Homo sapiens: one gene and its partners. The protein of the gene in region 2 purifies or fractionates together with the protein of the main gene of each other region. This does not show direct contact. Each region holds a gene or a part of one and is shown on either strand. Other genes may lie near its edges. The genes, in order: SLMAP, STK24 and CTTNBP2.

Region 1 (3,653 bases), on a different chromosome or scaffold from region 2:
TGGCTCATGCCTGTAATCCCAGCTACTTGGGAAGCTGAGGCAGAAGAATCACTTGAACCCAGGAGGGAGAGGTTGCAGTGAGCCGAGATTGCGCCACTGCACTCCAGCCTGGGAGACAGGGCAAGACTCCGGCTCAAAAAAAAAAAAAAAAAAAAAAACCATTCTACTATCTGCCATCTAATTTGAAGAGCTTGACTTCCGAAAAGGATGAAGGATAATACACAGGGCCAGCATCCAACAAGGCAATATCCAACTGCTACATTACTGAGAAGATGATTTGGTAAAGATTATGAAACTCTGCTTTGTGCCAAACCTGTCACCCTTCAACATGCAGATTTAAGTATTATACAATAAGATATTCCATGAGCTTAGCATTAAAAAGTGTCACTTAGATTTCCACCTGCCTACATTTTGCAGATATTCTAAAATGAACATGTATCATTTGAATAATCATAAAGTTTCAAGTGTTTATTATTTCTTCCAACTTTTTTTTTTTTTTTGAGACAGAGTCTCACATTGTCACCCAGGCTGGAGTGCAGTGGCGCGATCTCAGCTCACTGCAACCTCCGCCTCCCGGGTTCAAGCAATTCTCCTGCCTCAGCCTTCCCGAGTAGCTGGGATTGCAGGCACATGCCACCATGCCCAGCTAATTTTTTGTATTTTTCGTAGAGACAGGGTTTCACCGTGTTAGCCAGGATGATCTCGATCTCCTAACCTCGTGATCCGTCTGCCTCAGCCTCCCCAAGTGCTGGATTACAGGCATGAGCCACCAAGCCTGGCCTATTTCTTCCAACTTTTTTTTTTTTTTTTTTTTTGAGACGGAGTCTCGCTCTGTCGCCCAGGCCGGACTGCGGACTGCAGTGGCGCAATCTCGGCTCACTGCAAGCTCCGCTTCCCGGGTTCACGCCATTCTCCTGCCTCAGCCTCCCGAGTAGCTGGGACTACAGGCGCCCGCCACCGCGCCCGGCTAATTTTTTGTATTTTTAGTAGAGACGGGGTTTCACCTTGTTAGCCAGGATGGTCTCGATCTCCTGACCTCATGATCCACCCGCCTCGGCCTCCCAAAGTGCTGGGATTACAGGCGTGAGCCACCGCGCCCGGCCTTCTTCCAACTTTTAATGAGCCTCCCATAATGGACAATGCAGAATGCAACAGTCACCACAAAGTGAAAGTCACCCAAAGCACATATTACCCCAATTGTCGACCGCCCAGGTAAACTGCCAATTTAGACAAAGTTATCAACTACATCAGTTTCAATTTTAAAAATTTCTTCTGGCCAAGCACAGTGGCTCATGCCTGTAATCCTAGCACTTTGGGAGGCCGAGGCAAGTGGATCACCTGAGGTCAGGAGTTTGAGACCAGCCTGGCCAACATGGTGAAACCCTGTCTCCACTAAAAATACAAAAATTAGCCAGGCATGGTGATGAATGCCTGTAATCTCAGCTACTTGAGAAGCTGAGGTAGGAGAATCTCTTGAATCCAGAAGGTATAGGTTGCAGTGAGCTGAGATCGCACCACTGCACTCCAGCCTGGGTGACAGAGCCAGACTCCGTCTCAAAAAAACAAAAAACAAAAACAAAAACAAAATTTATTCTATATATGCCATCACATTAAAGAAAATAATTTCTCATCACCTTCCTAAGACTCCATAGCACTATAGCAAATTGCACAGTGTTGTCTAAATAGTTCCCTCTTCCCCACTAAACACCCTCTCTGCTGAGTATTGGGTGCTTAGTAAGAGCCAGGGACAGGGTGCTAAGTGATTTATATAATTACCTCAATTCTCAAAACAATAATAGGTACCATTATCATCCCCAGATGTTTAAAAAAAAAAAAAAACCTGGCCGGGCGCGGTGGCTCATGCCTGTAATCCCAGCACTTTGGGAGGCTGAGGTGGGTGGATCACCTGAGGTTGGGAGTTCAAGACCAGCCTGACCAACATGGAGAAACCCTGTCTCTACTAAAAACTCAAAATTAGCCACGCGTGGTGGCGCATGCCTGTAGTCCCAGCTACTCGGGAAGCTGAGGCAGGAGAATCACTTGAACCCAGGAGGGAGAGGATGTGGTGAGCCAAGATCGCGCCATTGCACTCCAGCCTGGGCAACAAGAACGAAACTCCTTCTCTGAAGGGATTCTTTTTTTTTTTTTAAGAGACAGGGTCTTGCTTTGATACCCAGGCTGGAGTGCAGTGGCATAATCACAGCACTGCAACCTCAAACTCCTGGGCTCAAGCAACCCTCGTGCCTCAGCATCCCGAGTAGGTGGGACTACAGACACTGCAAATTTCATACGAGAACTATTTGGTCGCACTGTGGGTTTTCTTTGGAACTGTATCCCTCACAGTGTCTGGCACATAATAGATGCTCAATTAAAACCTACTATCTGTCCAAACCAAAACTTTAAATAGTTAATTCCTAAAACAATTCAATGACATGGTAAGATCTGACAGAGCATCCGCTATAACTAGATTAAGTGGTATAATAATCAATAATTACATCTATATCTAAAGTAGTGGTCTCATAGCCTGCGTGTTATTTTAGCTAATAAAGCAGGAGGAAAAAAGTGAAAATGGTAGAAATAAGCCATATCTACCATTCAAAGATAAGTTTTTCTGAAGAACTAATTTCATGGCCGGGTGTGGTGGCTTATGCCTGTAATTCCAGCACTTTGGGAGGCCGAGGAGGGTGGATCACTTGAGGTCAGGCGTTCAAGACCACCCTGGCCAACATGGTGAAACCCAGTATCTACGAAGAATATAAAAATTAGCTGGGCATGGTGGCATGCGCCTGTGATCCCAGCTACTCAGGAGGCTAAGACACAAGAATCGCTTGAACCCAGGAGGCAGACGTTGCAGTGAGCTGAGGTTGCGCCACTGCACTCTAGCCTGGCCACAGAGCGAGACTCCATCTCAAAGAAAAAAAACAAATATTAACATGTCATCTCAATTCATGAAACAGTCACTACTGACCTATTCTTAGTTATCTCAAAATAACCTATTGTGAGAGTTTTAGTACAGCCATGGAAAGCACTGGGCATGAAATCAGTATTTTTCAAATAAGTAAAACAAAAAATGGGAGTCCCCTTCGAGTGTTTCATCAAAGAAAGTGCATTCGCAGAGTATGTACTGTGAGCCAACCTGTTGTCTGATTAGTTTAGACCTGTTGCCCAAGAACATAAAATGGTGAAAATGTAAAAGCTGGTTGAGTTAAGGCACTACTTAGTAGTAAACTGATGTTTGAATTCAACTGCTGGAAAAATGAGTTCTATGAATATTCATTTTAAAGAATTATGAGGGCCAGGTGCAGTGGCTCACGCCTGTAATCCCAGCACTTTGGGAGGTTGAGGCAGGTGGATCAACTGAGGTCAGGAGTTCAAGACCGCCTGGCCAACATGGTGAAACCCTGTCTCTACTAAAAATACAAAATTAACCAGGCATGGTGGCGTGTGCCTGTAATACCAGCTACTTTGGAGGCTGAGGCAGGAGAATCACTTGAACCCGGGAGGCAGAGGTTGCAGTGATCTGAGATAGCGCCACTGCACTCCAGCCTGGGTGACAGGAGCAAAAATCTGTCTCAAAAAAAAAAAAAAAGGATTACGAGTAATCTATGAAGTATTTTAGGCACCCTAACTTCAGCTTGCGAGGAGCGAGTGAA
Region 2 (3,653 bases):
GCATTTGTTCCTGAAGTTCTTGCTGTCACAGGGCCACGCCGCCGGCCCCGAGGCGGCCACTCGTGTTTGTCTAGGACTCCCAATCACTTGACAGTATTTACAAGTCCCGAGAGGGTCAGCTACAATCCAGCACTCTCCCTCCTGCCCATGCCCCGCCCCTAAGTCTCAAAGAAGGAGCAAAGGCGGCAGAAGGGCCGCCCTGGGAGAGGGCCTGTCCCCTTGCCGTGTGGAACGTGCTGGACCCATCACTGACTTCAGGGAGCAACCTGACCTGTGCTCCCTGAAGGAAAGCAGGGACGCCAACACCCGTCTCCTCAATGTCCTCATCTGTAAGCATGGGGATATAATCCTTCTACTGGGCTTCTACAAGTATTGTATGAAATAATACACAATAAACACTCTGAACTCTAGGGTAGCAAATATCATTCTTAAAAATACATTGGGAAAGATGCCTGTGAGTTTAGCAATTGGTTACCTGGAAAATCCAGGATATGACGGCGTTTAGGATATGTCCTGAATAATTATGTCAAAGTTGCTTCATGGGCCCAGTAAAAAAATAAACAGCCTCAGGAGAATGAAAAAGTCCATGCACTTTCCCTAACTGCCTGACTGACCCTATTCCAGCGGCCAATGGCAGGGCCGCAGGAGCACAGCCTGGAAATCCCACGGGGCCAACTCCCATGGGACAAAATGAAGCGCAGGATGGCGCTCAACCCGGACATCCTAGTTAGGAAGAACACAGGTGCCCAGAACCATGAGCCAGGGCTGAAGCCAGACATCATCCAGCAGGGCCTCCGCGTGCCCTGTGGCTTCCCCGACACCAGCGGGCTCGGCTACTTCCCACTTGAAGCTGCAGGTGAGGCCTCGGGCTCTGGCCACAGCCCTGCTCCCACCGGGCCCTGAACTTGCCAGGTCAGAGGCCCTCAGACAAACCCTCCAGGGCACCTGCTGGGCAGGGCAACAGGTGAAGGCTTATTGGAGGGCTGGGAAGAGGCACTGGCAGGACCGTGGCTGGCCAGGCACGGCCCATGGCCGGGGGTCCCCCGCTGCGTGACGCAGGCACAGGGGAGGAGAATGAGCTCCTATGACACTTCCTCTCCTGAGCACCTCCCCTTCAAGGACCAGGACCCCTAAACACAGCCGCAGTGGAAAACTGCCCAAAGAGGGAAGATCCCCACGCAAACAGATGCGTGTGTGGCCCACAGTGAGTACCTCAAAGGCAGCCTCAGCCAGGAAGGGGCACAACAAGAAAAGAGGGGACTTCCAACTTATTTTCAAATCCGCTACTAACCAGATGCAGAACAATCTTCATTCTTATAAAGCCTACTTTTGAAAATCTCTCAAAACACGGCCACGGGAGCACTTTCCTCTGGGAGGGAGAGGCTGAGCAGGGAGTGGGCGTGGGGAGGCCCAGCTGGGAGCACAGCACTGCTGAGCAGAGGAGGGACTTCAGTGAAACATGTGGCTCAGGGGAAACCGGAGGACTCCAGGGCATCCAACGTCTCCTTAGAAGAAAGAATCTACTTTTCACATGGCCAGAAATTGGTCTGAGGCAAAGAGAGCAGGCTGTACACAATGAGATTTGCTAAAAAGCAGGGCAACGGGTGACACAGGGTCTCGGGCTGGGTCACTGTCATCCAGTCTACACATTCCAGGCTGCGGCGGAGTGGGCATCACCCAGGACAGGGGAGGCGCAAGGTGGTGCTGACAGCCTTTGGGAAGGCACCATGCAGGCTTTCCGAGCCTTTGCCAGCTTGTCTTAATGTCCCCAACTCTTAACTGGCAACATCACCACTGAAGTGTGTCCAGCTTCTCCTTCCCCCTCCCCTCCCACTCCGAAAAGGCCAGCCAGGTACCTACCTCTGCAAACAGAGGAGAAATAATTGTAGATAAACACTGAGAGAAAGGCCTCTTCGGGATGTCTTTCATCTTGGGGGAGAGGGAAAAAAAGGTCATCAGAAACAGTTGACGTTCACATTGGCAATAATTTAATAAACCTCCCACCTGGACTATGGAAGCGCAGGAGTTGCCTCTACACTTCACGCTGAGGAAACACCCTCTGCGCACCATAACATCTGAAGGAGACTATCGGCTGCCTCTCACTAGACTTCAAAGTTTCATCTGCAGTGACATGCAAAACCCACGCACCGGGGAAACCAGCATCTGGGTTCCATGTGGAAGGGGACTCTGTGTGGGCACAGGCGGTGAACTGCCTCGTCTTGCTATCTACGCAGAAGTGCTTTACTGGTTGGGCGTGGTGGCTCATGCCTGTCATTCCAACACTTTGGGAAGCCGAAGCAGGAGGATCACTTGAGCCCAAGAGTTCGAGACCAGCTTGGGCAACATAGTGAGACCATGTTTCTATTAAAAAAAAAAAAAGTTTTAAATAAACTGGGCGTGATGTCACATGCCTGCAATCCCAGTTACTCAGGAGGCTGAGGTGGGAGGATCACTTGAGCCCAGGAGTTTGAGGCTACAGTGAGCTCTGATGGCACCACTGCACTCCAGCCTGGGCAACAGAGACCCCGTCTCAAAAAAAAAAAAGAGAGAGAGAGAGAGAGAGAGAAAAGTACTTTACTAATGAAACCCTGGAAATAGAAATCAGGTCAAGATTGGCCATTCCAATGGCTGTCTAGGACAGAGACCGAGTTTCTACTTTTGCAACCTCTATTTGGACATTTAACACCTGTTCACTTATCAAAGCGGGACTTGTAGGATCAACAGGGGACAGCCACTGGCCCACCCTGCCTGAAAGAAACTACACCACTATGCTTTACAAGACCCTAAATATATGGCCTTTCATAAATTTAACAGGCATAAAACCAATTAATCAAAATTGTTTTACATAAATATCAAAAGCAATGCATTTACTTATAAGGTCCTTAAAACTCAGTCACAAAATTATGATATGTATGTAAGTAACCGCAACATGCACAACAGTCCCTCAGAGCTATGAAGTCATTTCACGGGTCACCCCCAAACCCCATGACATTGCCACATCGGGACATCCTAACTCAACAGCAGGGCTGCAGAGAGCAGAATAGAGTGGCACAAAACAGACCAGAGGCCAGACTCCCTGGTGTGAACACCTGGATCATCAGACAGAACTAAAGCTCTTCATCTGCCCATCCCCTAGCAACAAAATTCCAGGACAGCTGCCACAAAGGACCCCAGCCGCACCCACAGCAAGCTTCACACACAAGTGCCTCCAAAACACTGCAGACTGAGGTCAGCGTGGCCATTCTGGAGTGAGCAGACGTACCTTATTTCTGTCCAAGTCCGATGGCTGAAGAGCTCCATTCTCGAGATTCTTGGGATCTTTTTCTCGGATTGTGAAGATCCAGTCCCCAGAATCACTGCCCCCCGAGGCTTGGCCATCTGTTTCCCTTAACACAGAAATGCAGGAAATCCCATCAGTGCTCGCACACCTGCTCTGGGGGCGCTGGGACGTTCAGGGGGAGGCCGCCTGGGGACCTCTAAACCCACACCCACCAGCCCCAAGTCCCCACCCATCACACCCTTGTCCAGTCCCTCTGGGATTTCCCAAAGACCCCCCCGCCTCCTCCCTCACAGAGAAGAGACCATCGGGAGGTGGTTCCACAACTCCCTGGCGTGCCAGTGTGTGCATGCCCACCCTCCTCCTCCTCCCGGAG
Region 3 (3,653 bases), on a different chromosome or scaffold from region 2:
AATCCATCCTTCAGAGATTTCTTGCAGATGCTCCCTATGAACAGTAAAATCCAATGTACCAAGTCTCAGTTTCTGCTCCTACTACACAGTAGTGTCCATAAGGTCTTATAAACTAATTGTTCTCAAACATTGGCATGCATAAGAATCACCTGAAGACCTTGTGAAAAAACAAGCCACGGGGCTCCACCCCTGGAAATTGTGATTCAGTGAGTCCGAGGTGGGGCTGTGAATCTGCCCTTCTAACAAGCTCCTGCTGATGTTGCTGGTCCACGGACTACATGGTGAGGAGCACTTCTGTAACTCATGCCATCCTCTGTTTTCTCATCTGTATAATGGAATTCCTAACGTCTACCCTGCATTCTTGTGAGGATTAAACAAGAACATATCAATGAAGTAAGTGCCAAATGAAGGCAGGCGATTGTTATTATTAACCCAGATGTTTCATGTAGAGAGGAATGGGGTATTGGCCAGGAGCCTATTTCTTTGAAAATCTACCAGCCCAAGTCCAATAAACTCAGTTTATTCACTATGATGAAAGACAGGCTCTTTTATCCTGGTTTTTCCCACTGAGATGGGAGAGTAAGCTGCAATTCTTATGTGCTTTAGAGTGTAATGCTTTATTAATGATGCTGCTGGTTGCTCTAAAGATTTTAATTAATTGTATATTTTATTGTCTTGTTTCTCCAAAGCTTTATAAGCAAAGTGCTCCATTTTAAAAACTAATAAATTATGAAAGACATTGCCAAGATCCTGATTCATATTAGAGTCAGGAGAGCCTGCCCTGCTTCCATCAGTAGCAGCAACACATGTGACCTACAGCTAAAACTTCTGTTTTTCTATGTATTACCATCAATAAAGAGGGAAATTCATTAAAATAAAAAATATTGGTACAAGCATTCTTGCTAAACCATAGATTATGTCACACAGAATGTTAAAAATAAATCTGTCTCCCATCACAACATATGAAGTGATGTACTGTTTGAAACATACAGTGCATCTGTCTGCTTGTCTCTCTTCCCTCTATGACTCCACCCCCACTTCTCCACTACTAGTCATAGTAAAATTTCTCTACTAATTCCTGGCCTTCCATAGTACAAATATAATAATAATATTTTCAAATTGTCAACAACTTTTATTTCCAATTCTATTCTGGCAAAACAGGGTTAAAAAAAGTACTGTGCATGAAAAGATGCTGGAGATCTTAAGACTCCAAGTATTTTATAAATATAAAGCACTTTAGCATTTTTAGAAAAATAACCCCAGAAGCAAAAATTCTAACAAAAACTACATTTTTGTTAGAATATATATATTCATATATCTAGATGTATGAATATATATTCATATATTTATATATATTCATATATATTCATATATTCATATATATTCATATATACATATATTCATATATATTCATTCAATATATATTCATATATATTCATTCAATATATATTCATATATATTCATTCTATATTCATATATATTCATTCAATATATATTCATATATATTCATTCTATATTCATATATATTCATTCAATATATATTCATATATATTCATTCAATATATATTCATATATATTCATTCAATATATATTCATATATATTCATTCAATATATATTCATATATATTCATTCAATATATATTCATATATATTCATATATATATGAAGTGGCATTAATCTTAGATGCATATGGTACAAAAGTACTTAGATATAGAAAAAATATTAAAGTTTCTTGGTTTAAGAGCCAAACGAACTATTTTAAGTCATATAATGTTTATAAAAGATTGCCTTGATAATCTAATTTTCAAATTGGATAGAAGACAGGACAGATTCAAATGCTGCCACTCACACAAAAAAATTAAGGTCTCTATCAGGGCACCATGAAAACATGACCCCCAAATCCCCAACGCCCCCCAGAAAAAAATCACAGCAGACATGTTCGCAGACTAAAGTTTACTATTGAACTTGCTTTTCCCAATTAAAAAAGAAAAATCCAGCTATTTTTTAGTGATGAAAAGAAACTAAAAACAAAGTAAAACCAGACCTGTGCCAGGCACGGTGGCTCACGCCTGTAATCCTAGCACTTTGGGAGGCCAAGGCCGGCAGATTGCCTGAGCTCAGGAGTTCAAGACCAGCCTGGGCAACATGGTGAAACCCCGTCTCTACTAAAATACAAAAAAAAAAAAGAAAAAAAATTAGCCAGGCATGGTGGCATGCACCTGTAGTCCCAGCTACTATGGAGGCTGTAGGTGGGAGAATTGCTTGAACCCAGGAGGCAGAGGTTGCAGTGAGCAGAGATCGTGCCACTCCAGCCTGGTGACAGAACAAGACTCCATCTCCAAAAAAAAAAAAAAAAAAAGAAAAGAAAAAATAGAAAAACAGATTTCAATTCCACAGGCCACTCTTCTGCCTGTTACATTTGCCAGGAAAAGCATTCCAGAAAAAGTGCTTAACACCTAGTTTTAAAAATCTGGCATGGCAGCTTCAACTAATCCAGAATCTGGTCATCAAAGTATGTCTTGTTTAGGATACAAGTCATATATATTAATTTATTGTATGTTAATCTATTGTATATTACAATTTATTATATATAATTTATTTAAAATTAAAAAGTATACTTATATAATTATATATATAATATATACATATATATAGTATATTATGTATAAATGGAAAAGGAGAAATAATCCCAAACTCAACTGTTCAACACTGTAGTTTTGAACAGCTCTGAATTACTTGGCGCAAGCGTGGGGAGGGCATTCTTCAGGATTTTTTCTCATACAGGCTGAGAAAGAGAGAAAGAGACAGAATAGACAAAACAGACCCTGGCTGAGTAAACTCATCTTAAATTTCCAGAATTGAACACAGGCCAATACCAAGTTTCCCCCTCCCCAAATCTAAAACACTAGGTTTATGTGGGGAATTCAATAGATACAGCTAAATATTAACAGAAAAGTCTTACCCATACCCTTTTAGAATTAGTGGAACCAACCAACAGTGATTGATTATCAGAATGCCTTCAGGAGACATTATGAGCCACAATGGCAGAGACACCCCTCAGATCTTTCCTCAAACACATCCGTCCTATCAGGGCTGCTGGGGGATATGTTGGTGACCAAACACAAACTCAGGCACTTTCTCTGGCTCTTCCCACCAACACCAAGAGCCTCTCTTCCAATTTAAAATCCAGCAGGTTGTGCCTATTTTCCATCAGTAAGCTTTACACAGGAGAAAGCAGGCAGACTGGAAGGTGGGGTGATGAGCAATGTGGCTAGGGAAGAATCAGCAAAGTAGGGCAAATCATTTCATCTGTTTGAATCTCAGGTTTTCCATCAGTAAAAATAAGGATGCTGGAGTAAGTGATCTCTTAAATCTCCCCCATCCCCTAAATGTCCTGATTTCATGTACCATCAGGGTAACTGGATTACTGGACTGAGGAAATTCATTTAGGTCATTTCCTGAGCCTAAAAGCGTTTGTGAGGTACTTGAGGAAAACTGATTTTGCCTCTTTGCTCAGAAGTTAGAGAAATGTATTTTCCTCCCAGTTTAATAGTGCATGCCAATAATAATGCATTTAGAACTTTCTATGTAAGCAAGATTTATGCTTTGGGGATGAATAAGGGCTATCAAAAAGGAAAAGCAATGAAATCAAC

Evidence for each region.
Region 1: the proteins of STK24 (region 2) and SLMAP purify together in Homo sapiens (affinity purification with mass spectrometry; 6 studies listed by BioGRID and IntAct, with this or other methods). This does not show direct contact.
Region 3: the proteins of STK24 (region 2) and CTTNBP2 purify together in Homo sapiens (affinity purification with mass spectrometry; 3 studies listed by BioGRID and IntAct, with this or other methods). This does not show direct contact.

Annotation. Positions count from the first base shown.
Region 1 is NC_000003.12:57,759,216-57,762,868, reverse strand, and holds part of SLMAP (sarcolemmal membrane-associated protein), read right to left. Parts: intron 1-3,653. UniProt on the Homo sapiens protein: Associates with the striatin-interacting phosphatase and kinase (STRIPAK) core complex, forming the extended (SIKE1:SLMAP)STRIPAK complex.
Region 2 is NC_000013.11:98,458,512-98,462,164, forward strand, and holds part of STK24 (serine/threonine-protein kinase 24 isoform b precursor), read right to left. Parts: intron 3,387-3,653; coding exon 3,263-3,386; intron 1,930-3,262; coding exon 1,861-1,929; intron 1-1,860. UniProt on the Homo sapiens protein: Serine/threonine-protein kinase that acts on both serine and threonine residues and promotes apoptosis in response to stress stimuli and caspase activation.
Region 3 is NC_000007.14:117,863,332-117,866,984, forward strand, and holds part of CTTNBP2 (cortactin-binding protein 2), read right to left. Parts: intron 1,242-3,653; exon of another isoform or gene 1-1,241. UniProt on the Homo sapiens protein: Regulates the dendritic spine distribution of CTTN/cortactin in hippocampal neurons, and thus controls dendritic spinogenesis and dendritic spine maintenance.